Linked DNA regions of Homo sapiens. The protein of the gene in region 2 purifies or fractionates together with the protein of the main gene of each other region. This does not show direct contact. Each region holds a gene or a part of one and is shown on either strand. Other genes may lie near its edges.

Region 1 (4,502 bases), on a different chromosome or scaffold from region 2:
TTAGTTGTGACTGCTACAGTAATCTCCTTCACATTGTTTTCTACAGTATTTTAGTTTCACCTGGTTTTGTAAGTCCTAATAAAGTTATAATTCTTTATATAATACACACTTAGATTTATTGACATGCTTACTAATTTCTTCACCAATGAGATAAACTGAACATTCCTTAAATGGCAAAATGAAACCCAGTCAGAAAAACCTTTCTCTTTAAATATTGAAGAGCTATTAAATCCATCCTATACAATGAAATATTATAAACTTCATGAAATGTTTAAAAAACAAATAAAAAATTGAATGAACTTTCATTGAGTATCTTGTCATATGGCTAACTGGCTTTCAGAGAATTGTGTCTTAGCAAATTAATCATTTATTAAGTTAGCTTTTGGGGAAGTAATTTTCAGTAAATTTGTATAAGTAAATTTTACTGCTTAAAACCAGTCAGCCTTTCTAAATTCTTGTTGCTAGCAATGGCAAGATCAGCAAGAGGGATGATCTTACCTAGAGCACACTGAGGTCTGTGAGACTACTAAGTCCAGCTGTAAGTGGGCACAAGGCCAAAAAATGGGCAATTTTATTTAAGTCAGGAAAACTCTATTCATTTGTTTTATGTAGATGGTAGAGAAAAGTTTCTCATGTCCATCTTCCATTCTTAAAGATGGATTACTTAGAGGAAAATGTAGGTTTAAAATGTGGAAAATGATTGTAATAATATAACCTAGAAAAAAAGATGTATAAAAAAGTGCATTTTCATTTCTTCTTTCTAGGTTCACATTTATTGCCAAAAGATGTCTACTCTCCTGGAAAACATCTTTGCCATAATTAATCTTTTCAAGCAATATTCAAAAAAAGATAAAAACACTGACACATTGAGTAAAAAAGAGCTGAAGGAACTTCTGGAAAAGGAATTTCGGCAAATCCTGAAGGTAAGAGTCTCTGACAAGACCAAAGATAGAGCATTTGTTTTTCTCATCAATAATCTAAGCAAGGGTTATTTTGAGCTCTTTGTGAACTATTTCTCTTAAAATAGGAAAAGAGTTAATCTTGTCTCAAAAGAGATAGATTTTATTTTCTTCCCCTATACCTGGATGTATATTATAAACATAAAGACACCCTCAGAGAAAAAAATATAAATATTTAAAAATTAATGTAAATTAGTTCTTAGTATTTTGGTATTTATAATATTCTCCCAAACATCAACATTACTAAGGGGATTTTTGTTAAAGACAACTAAGTAATGAATTATATACACTTCTGACTTTTAAAATAAGAAAAAGAGTCACTTACCCCATCAAATCTTGATACCTTACTAGTCTACATCTTTGTTCACATATAACACCTGAATGAGGATGAGACAAAAAAGTCTTAAAAAAAAAAAAGATTTTGTCCCACTTTTTAATACTCAAAGATCAGGTTCCTTAAATTAACTTTGAATTAATTGGCTGATAATGTGATTCTGTCTGATGCAGTCTCCCTCTGTGACTTCCCTCTGTACAGAATCCAGATGACCCAGATATGGTTGATGTCTTCATGGATCACTTGGATATAGACCACAACAAGAAAATTGACTTCACTGAGTTTCTTCTGATGGTATTCAAGTTGGCTCAAGCATATTATGAGTCTACCAGAAAAGAGAATTTACCGATATCAGGACACAAGCACAGAAAGCACAGTCATCATGATAAACATGAAGATAATAAACAGGAAGAAAACAAAGAAAACAGAAAAAGACCCTCAAGTCTGGAAAGAAGAAACAATAGAAAAGGGAATAAGGGAAGATCCAAGAGCCCAAGAGAAACAGGGGGGAAAAGGCATGAATCTAGTTCTGAAAAAAAAGAAAGAAAAGGATATTCACCTACTCATAGAGAAGAAGAATATGGAAAAAACCATCATAACTCAAGTAAAAAAGAGAAAAACAAGACTGAAAATACTAGATTAGGAGACAATAGGAAGAGGCTAAGTGAAAGACTTGAAGAGAAAGAAGACAATGAAGAAGGAGTATATGATTATGAAAATACAGGAAGAATGACTCAAAAATGGATACAATCAGGCCATATTGCCACATATTACACAATCCAGGATGAAGCCTATGACACCACTGATAGTCTATTAGAAGAAAACAAAATATATGAAAGATCAAGGTCATCTGATGGCAAATCATCATCTCAAGTGAACAGGTCAAGACATGAAAATACAAGCCAGGTACCATTGCAGGAGTCCAGGACAAGAAAGCGTAGGGGATCCAGAGTTAGCCAGGACAGGGACAGTGAGGGACACTCAGAAGACTCTGAGAGGCACTCTGGGTCGGCTTCCAGAAACCATCATGGATCTGCGTGGGAGCAGTCAAGAGATGGCTCCAGACACCCCAGGTCCCATGATGAAGACAGAGCCAGTCATGGGCACTCTGCAGACAGCTCCAGACAATCAGGCACTCGTCACGCAGAGACTTCCTCTCGTGGACAGACTGCATCATCCCATGAACAGGCAAGATCAAGTCCAGGAGAAAGACATGGATCCGGCCACCAGCAGTCAGCAGACAGCTCCAGACACTCAGCCACTGGGCGCGGGCAAGCTTCATCTGCAGTCAGCGATCGTGGACACCGGGGGTCTAGCGGTAGTCAGGCCAGTGACAGTGAGGGACATTCAGAAAACTCAGACACACAATCAGTGTCAGGCCACGGAAAGGCTGGGCTGAGACAGCAGAGCCACCAAGAGTCCACACGTGGCCGGTCAGGGGAACGGTCTGGACGTTCAGGGTCTTCCCTCTACCAGGTGAGCACTCATGAACAGCCTGACTCTGCCCATGGACGGACCGGGACCAGCACTGGAGGAAGACAAGGATCGCACCACGAGCAGGCACGAGACAGCTCCAGGCATTCAGCGTCCCAAGAGGGTCAGGACACCATTCGTGGACACCCGGGGTCAAGCAGAGGAGGAAGGCAGGGATCCCACCACGAGCAATCGGTAAATAGGTCTGGACACTCAGGTTCCCATCACAGCCACACCACATCCCAGGGAAGGTCTGATGCCTCCCATGGGCAGTCAGGATCCAGAAGTGCAAGCAGACAAACACGAAATGAGGAACAATCAGGAGACGGCACCAGGCACTCAGGGTCACGTCATCATGAAGCTTCCTCTCAGGCTGACAGCTCTAGACACTCACAGGTGGGCCAGGGACAATCATCGGGGCCCAGGACAAGTAGGAACCAGGGATCCAGTGTTAGCCAGGACAGTGACAGTCAGGGACACTCAGAAGACTCTGAGAGGTGGTCTGGGTCTGCTTCCAGAAACCATCATGGATCTGCTCAGGAGCAGTCAAGAGATGGCTCCAGACACCCCAGGTCCCATCACGAAGACAGAGCTGGTCATGGGCACTCTGCAGACAGCTCCAGAAAATCAGGCACTCGTCACACACAGAATTCCTCTAGTGGACAGGCTGCGTCATCCCATGAACAGGCAAGATCAAGTGCAGGAGAAAGACATGGATCCCGCCACCAGCTCCAGTCAGCAGACAGCTCCAGACACTCAGGCACTGGGCACGGACAAGCTTCATCTGCAGTCAGAGACAGTGGACACCGAGGGTCCAGTGGTAGTCAGGCCACTGACAGTGAGGGACATTCAGAAGACTCAGACACACAGTCAGTGTCAGGCCATGGACAGGCTGGTCACCATCAGCAGAGCCACCAAGAGTCCGCACGTGACCGGTCAGGGGAAAGGTCTCGACGTTCAGGGTCTTTCCTCTACCAGGTGAGCACTCATAAACAGTCTGAGTCCTCCCATGGATGGACAGGGCCCAGCACTGGAGTAAGACAAGGATCCCACCATGAGCAGGCACGAGACAACTCCAGGCACTCAGCATCCCAAGATGGTCAGGACACCATTCGTGGACACCCGGGGTCAAGCAGAAGAGGAAGGCAGGGGTCCCACCACGAGCAATCGGTAGATAGGTCTGGACACTCAGGGTCCCATCACAGCCACACCACATCCCAGGGAAGGTCTGATGCCTCCCGTGGGCAGTCAGGATCCAGAAGTGCAAGCAGAACAACACGTAATGAGGAACAATCAAGAGACGGCTCCAGGCACTCAGGGTCACGTCACCATGAAGCTTCCTCTCATGCCGACATCTCTAGACACTCACAGGCAGGCCAGGGACAATCAGAGGGGTCCAGGACAAGCAGGCGCCAGGGATCCAGTGTTAGCCAGGACAGTGACAGTGAGGGACATTCAGAAGACTCTGAGAGGTGGTCTGGGTCTGCTTCCAGAAACCATCGTGGATCTGCTCAGGAGCAGTCAAGACATGGCTCCAGACACCCCAGGTCCCATCACGAAGACAGAGCCGGTCACGGGCACTCTGCAGACAGCTCCAGACAATCAGGAACTCCTCACGCAGAGACTTCCTCTGGTGGACAGGCTGCGTCATCCCATGAACAGGCAAGATCAAGTCCAGGAGAAAGACACGGATCCCGCCACCAGCAGTCAGCAGACAGCTCCAGACACTCAGGCAT
Region 2 (6,058 bases):
CCAAAGTAAGTGAAGAAATTAAAGCTGCATGAATGGTCCCTGAATAAGTTCCTCTGTTTGGGGAAAAAAAAAAATTCATTAGGTTCAAGTATTAAAGAAACTTGTGTCTACATTATACAAGTTGAATCCTTGACCCATTGTTTACTTGCTGTCAAATGACTGGGCAGTTTCTTTTCACTATAATTCCCTGCCAACACAAAACCATCGCGAAGATCCAGGAGCACAGCGAACGGGGGTCAATGCTATAGGGCTCATGGGTTGCAGGGGAGGACGACAGACCTCAGGCCCTTGCCTAAGTCTCCCCATCTCATAAGCTGGTCAAAGTGTCCCTGCCTGCTGACTCAAGGCCCAGACATTTATCCATTCCTCCCCCAACCTCTCCATTTCTTCACCTACTTGTTCAGTCAGAAATTCAACCAATATTAAATGCCTCTTCTCTACACACATATGCAACACATGCCAACTCTCAAGGAATGCAATTTAGTGGAGGAGAAAAAGCAAGTAAATATGCAGTAACAATGCAAACATGTGCCACTACAGGGATAGGTACCAAGTGCTAAGGAAACCTGCAGGGATGAACAACCAGCCCAGCTTCGGAGGGCAGAGAAACCAGCCCAGCTTCGGATGGCAGAGAAAGCTTCCTGAAAAAGGTAGCTACAAGAACAAAGAGCAGCAGGCCATGCCATCAGGTGGGAGACAGTGGTGAGGAATGCCACAGTGGGTGGAACAGCATGTGAGAGGCAGGAAGAGCAAATGTAGCCAGTCCAGAGGGCTGGAATGGAGAGCAAGATGAGGAAAAAGTGAGAGCTCACCCCAACCTGAAGCCAGGCCTATGGAGAGCCCTCAGGTGCTCCTGGATGCCTCCTCTAAGAGTCTGGCAATTCAGAAACAAGAATGCCCCTGTGCACCGTGAAGAATTCAAGTCTTGATGAAAGGACTCTTCTAGACACATGCCATCAATGTATCTGTTGATTTTAGCAGCAATGGGGAAGCTAATCAATACTTAATTTTAGAAAAGTCCTAAGCTATGTGAATAAGGCAAAGGACAGATTAGGTCTGCATGCAGGCAGATTTCTGTCCAGCTGAAACATCAAACTCCTGTGTGATGAATGAAATATAACATCACATATAAAAAACTGATGAATGTGATTCAGCCATAAGAAGTCCTATCTAGTGGACAGATCAATATAATTACCTCATAAGAAGTTATTACAGCGGGAGAAACTGGACCTGGCTTTACCTTGAGTTCTTAAGCAAGTAACTGGCCTTCAATTTCTTCATCCACACAAGAAATAGTTGCTATGGTTGTCTCCAACACTTCTAAAACCCATCATTCTGGCAGGTTGTAACAATCAAAAGTATTTTATCACCAAAGGCAAGGATTTAAGTAACTTTTCTAAGCCACAGATTTACTATGGTTTTGTCTGAGAAAAAAAAAAAAAAGGATGGACCCCAAACTGTCTAAAATTCAAAAAAACAAATACATTTAAGTTCATGAACCCTTTAAAAAGTTGACAAACCATGCATAACCAAACATAAAGATAATTAAAATTTTAGGATAAGCAAATGAGAGATAATTTTTTTTAAGAAATGAGAAAGTAAAACAAAATTAACCTAACAAGGCAGGCAGCGATTCGTTGCTCACTTCCCTTTCTGCTGGTTTCATTTCCCTTCTTAGGTGAAAACACTCTTAATATGTAAATCAGTCCACTAAAGACTTCAGAGTCCTTTCTGCTAAGATTTGCAGAAATTTTTATGCAAAAGAAATTATTTCTAGACTTCCACGCACTAGAAAAGCAGACTTACAAAATACAGCAAACTAAAGTGGATAAATGTATGTGGCAAAGCAGAAGCAATTAATCAAGGATCCTACTTTTAAGCATTTAGAAATGTTTAAATAGTAAAAAGTGGAAATGTGGATATTCTATGATTTTTAATAACTTGGTAGTAAAAAGTGAGACTCCATTTAGGAGTACCTACTAAGTGCCAGGTACTATTAAGCACTTGGGATCTTTCTGGTTTAGGGCCCCTACAATCCTACTGGATATAGTATTATCTCTATTTCAACTGTACAGAAATGAAGTAGGAACAAAGGGTTAGTCAGAGTGGGTAGGTAACTAGACAAAGTCACATAGCTTATAAAGCAAAGAAGCTAGACTTTAAACCCCCTTTTACTCAATATCAAATCTTCTCTTTCCATAGATGATGCAGACTTCAAGCATCAAAGTACACAAACTGAAGAAACTTTATCCTTTGTATATAATTATCTTAAATATATGCCATCATTTCAAGGGGAGCTTATGCTAAGTGTGACTTCATAAACAAATCATTTGTGAAAGAGAAAAACCACATCCAGGGTAAAGTCATAAGGTGAAAAAGCCTATTTCAGAGAGCACTTCCTGAAAGAGACAAAGCAGCAATTAAAGTCAGCCCAGCACCAACTCCGACGCCAAGCGTTACACTGGAAACTACTTTTTAAAGCAACAAAAGAGTCTAAAACAAAATACAACATTTCTTAAATACACTGTTTCCAGAAAGAGCTATTTTAACAGAAGCAACTCAAAGATATCCCTTCGACAGAAGTGGAAGTGCTGAAAAATGCTCATCTCTCACACAGACTTTTGATGGACAGGAGGTAAGCAGCATTTAATTAACTTCATGATTATTGTCAAAAGTAATGCTTTATGTACTGCATTTCAAAAATCATTTCATTTTAATAATACAGGCTGGGCGCAATGGCCCACGCCTGTAACTCCAACACTTTGGGAGGCCAAGGCAGGAGGATCAGTTGTGCCCAGGAGCACCATAGTGAGACCCCGTCTCTATTAAAAAAATATATTTAATTAAAAAAATAAACATAACAAACTATGTTGGTGAAAGACCTTGAAATAGGCTATATAATCATCTTTCCACATTAATATGATTTTACATTTATTTTCAATATTGCTTTACATTAATACTAAATGTAATTTTTTTCAACTTAAGGAAAGAAAATGTTTATGGTAAATCATATGTATATTTAGGAATGTTCATCACATGTTTTCAATTACATTGTTTCATGAAATAACTTAATGGTTTTTAAGAAAAGAAAAGCTACAGATAATCATGGTATCTATAGCTTTTAAAAAGCTGACTTTAAAGTCAATCACTTTTCAATATTTATCCAAAAATTTCTGTGTTTGCAGAGCACAATCAATACTATAATGCCTTTAAAACACATGCATCACTCATTTTTTTTCAAACGTCAGCAAATGAATATAAGTATTGGTGACAAGCTACATAAAAACAGCTTGAGCATAACGTGGGAAAAAAGACTCAAGATGGTTTGTAAGTACAGGACTTATGTCACAAAATTGAAGGATGAGGATAGGTGAAGGGAGTCCTGATGCAATACTAAAAAAAGAAAAACAAATACAAAATTTCATTTATATTATAATTGCTACTATTTAATAAGAATGCATTCCAGTTAAAAATAAGATTTAAGCCTCCAAGATTACTCTCCTTTGAATGACACTAGAGATATAATTTTTCTCTGTAGCACTTTCCTCATTTGATAGAAATTAATATTCTAGTCACACCAATATTTGGAAAATTTAATATGTTTTTAAATATATAGAATTATGCTCCTAAATCATATTTAACCTAAATATTTGAGAAGGAAAGAAGGAGAAGAAGGGAAGAAAGGGAAGGGAAGGGAAGGGAAAGGAAGGAAGGCAGACAGGCACGTTTCTTGTGTTTAACCACAGCAATTGCTCAAGTTAATTCTTAATTATCAATAGCCCGTGATGCCACTGACCACAGACAGCAAATCTCCCCCATAGTTTTCCTTAAAGAGAAATTCTGGGCTGATTTCAAGACAGCCCACTCTGCAAAGTGACATTTTTGAAGGAAACTTTTCATCCACCTCCATATTACAAGGGGATGCCACAGATTCCATCTCATTGCAGCAAAGTCTATTTTTGAAGTCTGTTGTTGGTGTTGCATCATGGGGGAATGAAGTTTCACACTGAGGAGTCAATGATATTTGCAACCCCAAATAACCTCCTTTCCATTTAAAATGGACGGTTTTTTTTTTTTTGGTGATGGAAATTTATAAGTTTCTACATACACATCAAGTTACTGAATGACTTCTTATTAATATCTACTTGTCTTAGATACTCCTTTTTTGGATTTACTTTGAAAATTGTTAAAATTTAAATAATATTGAAGCTTCTGAATCTAGATGGAATGAGGATATGAAAGTTACTAACGGCACTAGCTTTTTTCAAGGTGCTGCTTTCTGTGAACCACTGAAGTAGAGCAGCTGAAATCACAAAACCTGGAAGACTTGGCTTTACGTACTCCCAATTGTGCACTAGAAAACAGCTCATCTATTGCTCTAACAGTCTAGTTCTTGATCTGCTGACCATGACACAAAACATTGCTGTTTCTCAACCTATGATAATTTAAAGAGAACATAAGGTAATAAATATTATGAAGTGTTTCCACTTTAAAAAAAACAAAAAGTTTAATAGCCAGCTACACAAGTCTTCATTTTCAAACTAGAGAATTACAAACTAGAGTTTTTTAGCAAAGTAGAGTTGCTGTGAATCATCTCATCAAAAGTTCCTTCATTTATTCATCAATTCAGTAAATATTTATTTATTGAGTACCTATTACATGCTCAATAGACAGTGGGGCTATAGCTGTAACAAAGGAAAAGTTCCCATTCTCTCTCAAATGAGAATTACTGTGAATGTTCAGTAGTTAACCAGTTGAATCGTTCCTTGATTAAATGCTCTCGAACTTAAAATTCACTGGCAGTCAAGCTGAGTGGGAGAATGTTAAGCATTTATTTTTTAACCAACGATTTTATTCTTATTTTTCTTAACTATTTTTACAGTTTCTAAGTATCATGCCTACCAACAAGCTGTAAAATGATCACCCTGAACAATCAAGATCAACCTGTCCCTTTTAACAGCTCACATCCAGATGAATACAAAATTGCAGCCCTTGTCTTCTATAGCTGTATCTTCATAATTGGATTATTTGTTAACATCACTGCATTATGGGTTTTCAGTTGTACCACCAAGAAGAGAACCACGGTAACCATCTATATGATGAATGTGGCATTAGTGGACTTGATATTTATAATGACTTTACCCTTTCGAATGTTTTATTATGCAAAAGATGAATGGCCATTTGGAGAGTACTTCTGCCAGATTCTTGGAGCTCTCACAGTGTTTTACCCAAGCATTGCTTTATGGCTTCTTGCCTTTATTAGTGCTGACAGATACATGGCCATTGTACAGCCGAAGTACGCCAAAGAACTTAAAAACACGTGCAAAGCCGTGCTGGCGTGTGTGGGAGTCTGGATAATGACCCTGACCACGACCACCCCTCTGCTACTGCTCTATAAAGACCCAGATAAAGACTCCACTCCCGCCACCTGCCTCAAGATTTCTGACATCATCTATCTAAAAGCTGTGAACGTGCTGAACCTCACTCGACTGACATTTTTTTTCTTGATTCCTTTGTTCATCATGATTGGGTGCTACTTGGTCATTATTCATAATCTCCTTCACGGCAGGACGTCTAAGCTGAAACCCAAAGTCAAGGAGAAGTCCATAAGGATCATCATCACGCTGCTGGTGCAGGTGCTCGTCTGCTTTATGCCCTTCCACATCTGTTTCGCTTTCCTGATGCTGGGAACGGGGGAGAACAGTTACAATCCCTGGGGAGCCTTTACCACCTTCCTCATGAACCTCAGCACGTGTCTGGATGTGATTCTCTACTACATCGTTTCAAAACAATTTCAGGCTCGAGTCATTAGTGTCATGCTATACCGTAATTACCTTCGAAGCATGCGCAGAAAAAGTTTCCGATCTGGTAGTCTACGGTCACTAAGCAATATAAACAGTGAAATGTTATGAATAATAAGGTTCTTTCATTTCAATCCCATCAAAATTCACTTCACTAACTACTCTGGCGTCAATGGATATTCTGTATAATACTATCAAGTCCCTTTTCTCTTGAAAAAATAAATTCATTATCTTCATTTTAAAAACTTATATAAAAC

The links. Proteins that work in one complex are often made in the same cells at the same time.
Region 1: the proteins of GPR18 (region 2) and FLG purify together in Homo sapiens (affinity purification with mass spectrometry; 2 studies listed by BioGRID and IntAct, with this or other methods). This does not show direct contact.

What each region holds. Positions count from the first base shown.
Region 1 is NC_000001.11:152,311,740-152,316,241, reverse strand, and holds part of FLG (filaggrin), read left to right. Parts: intron 1-764; 5' UTR 765-785; coding exon 786-923; intron 924-1,284; exon of another isoform or gene 1,285-1,494; coding exon 1,495-4,502.
Region 2 is NC_000013.11:99,254,731-99,260,788, reverse strand, and holds GPR18 (N-arachidonyl glycine receptor), read left to right. Parts: upstream 1-2,409; 5' UTR 2,410-2,635; intron 2,636-4,269; exon of another isoform or gene 4,270-4,461; intron 4,462-4,882; 5' UTR 4,883-4,916; coding exon 4,917-5,912; 3' UTR 5,913-6,050; downstream 6,051-6,058. UniProt on the Homo sapiens protein: G protein-coupled receptor (GPCR) that plays a role in diverse physiological processes particularly within the immune and nervous systems.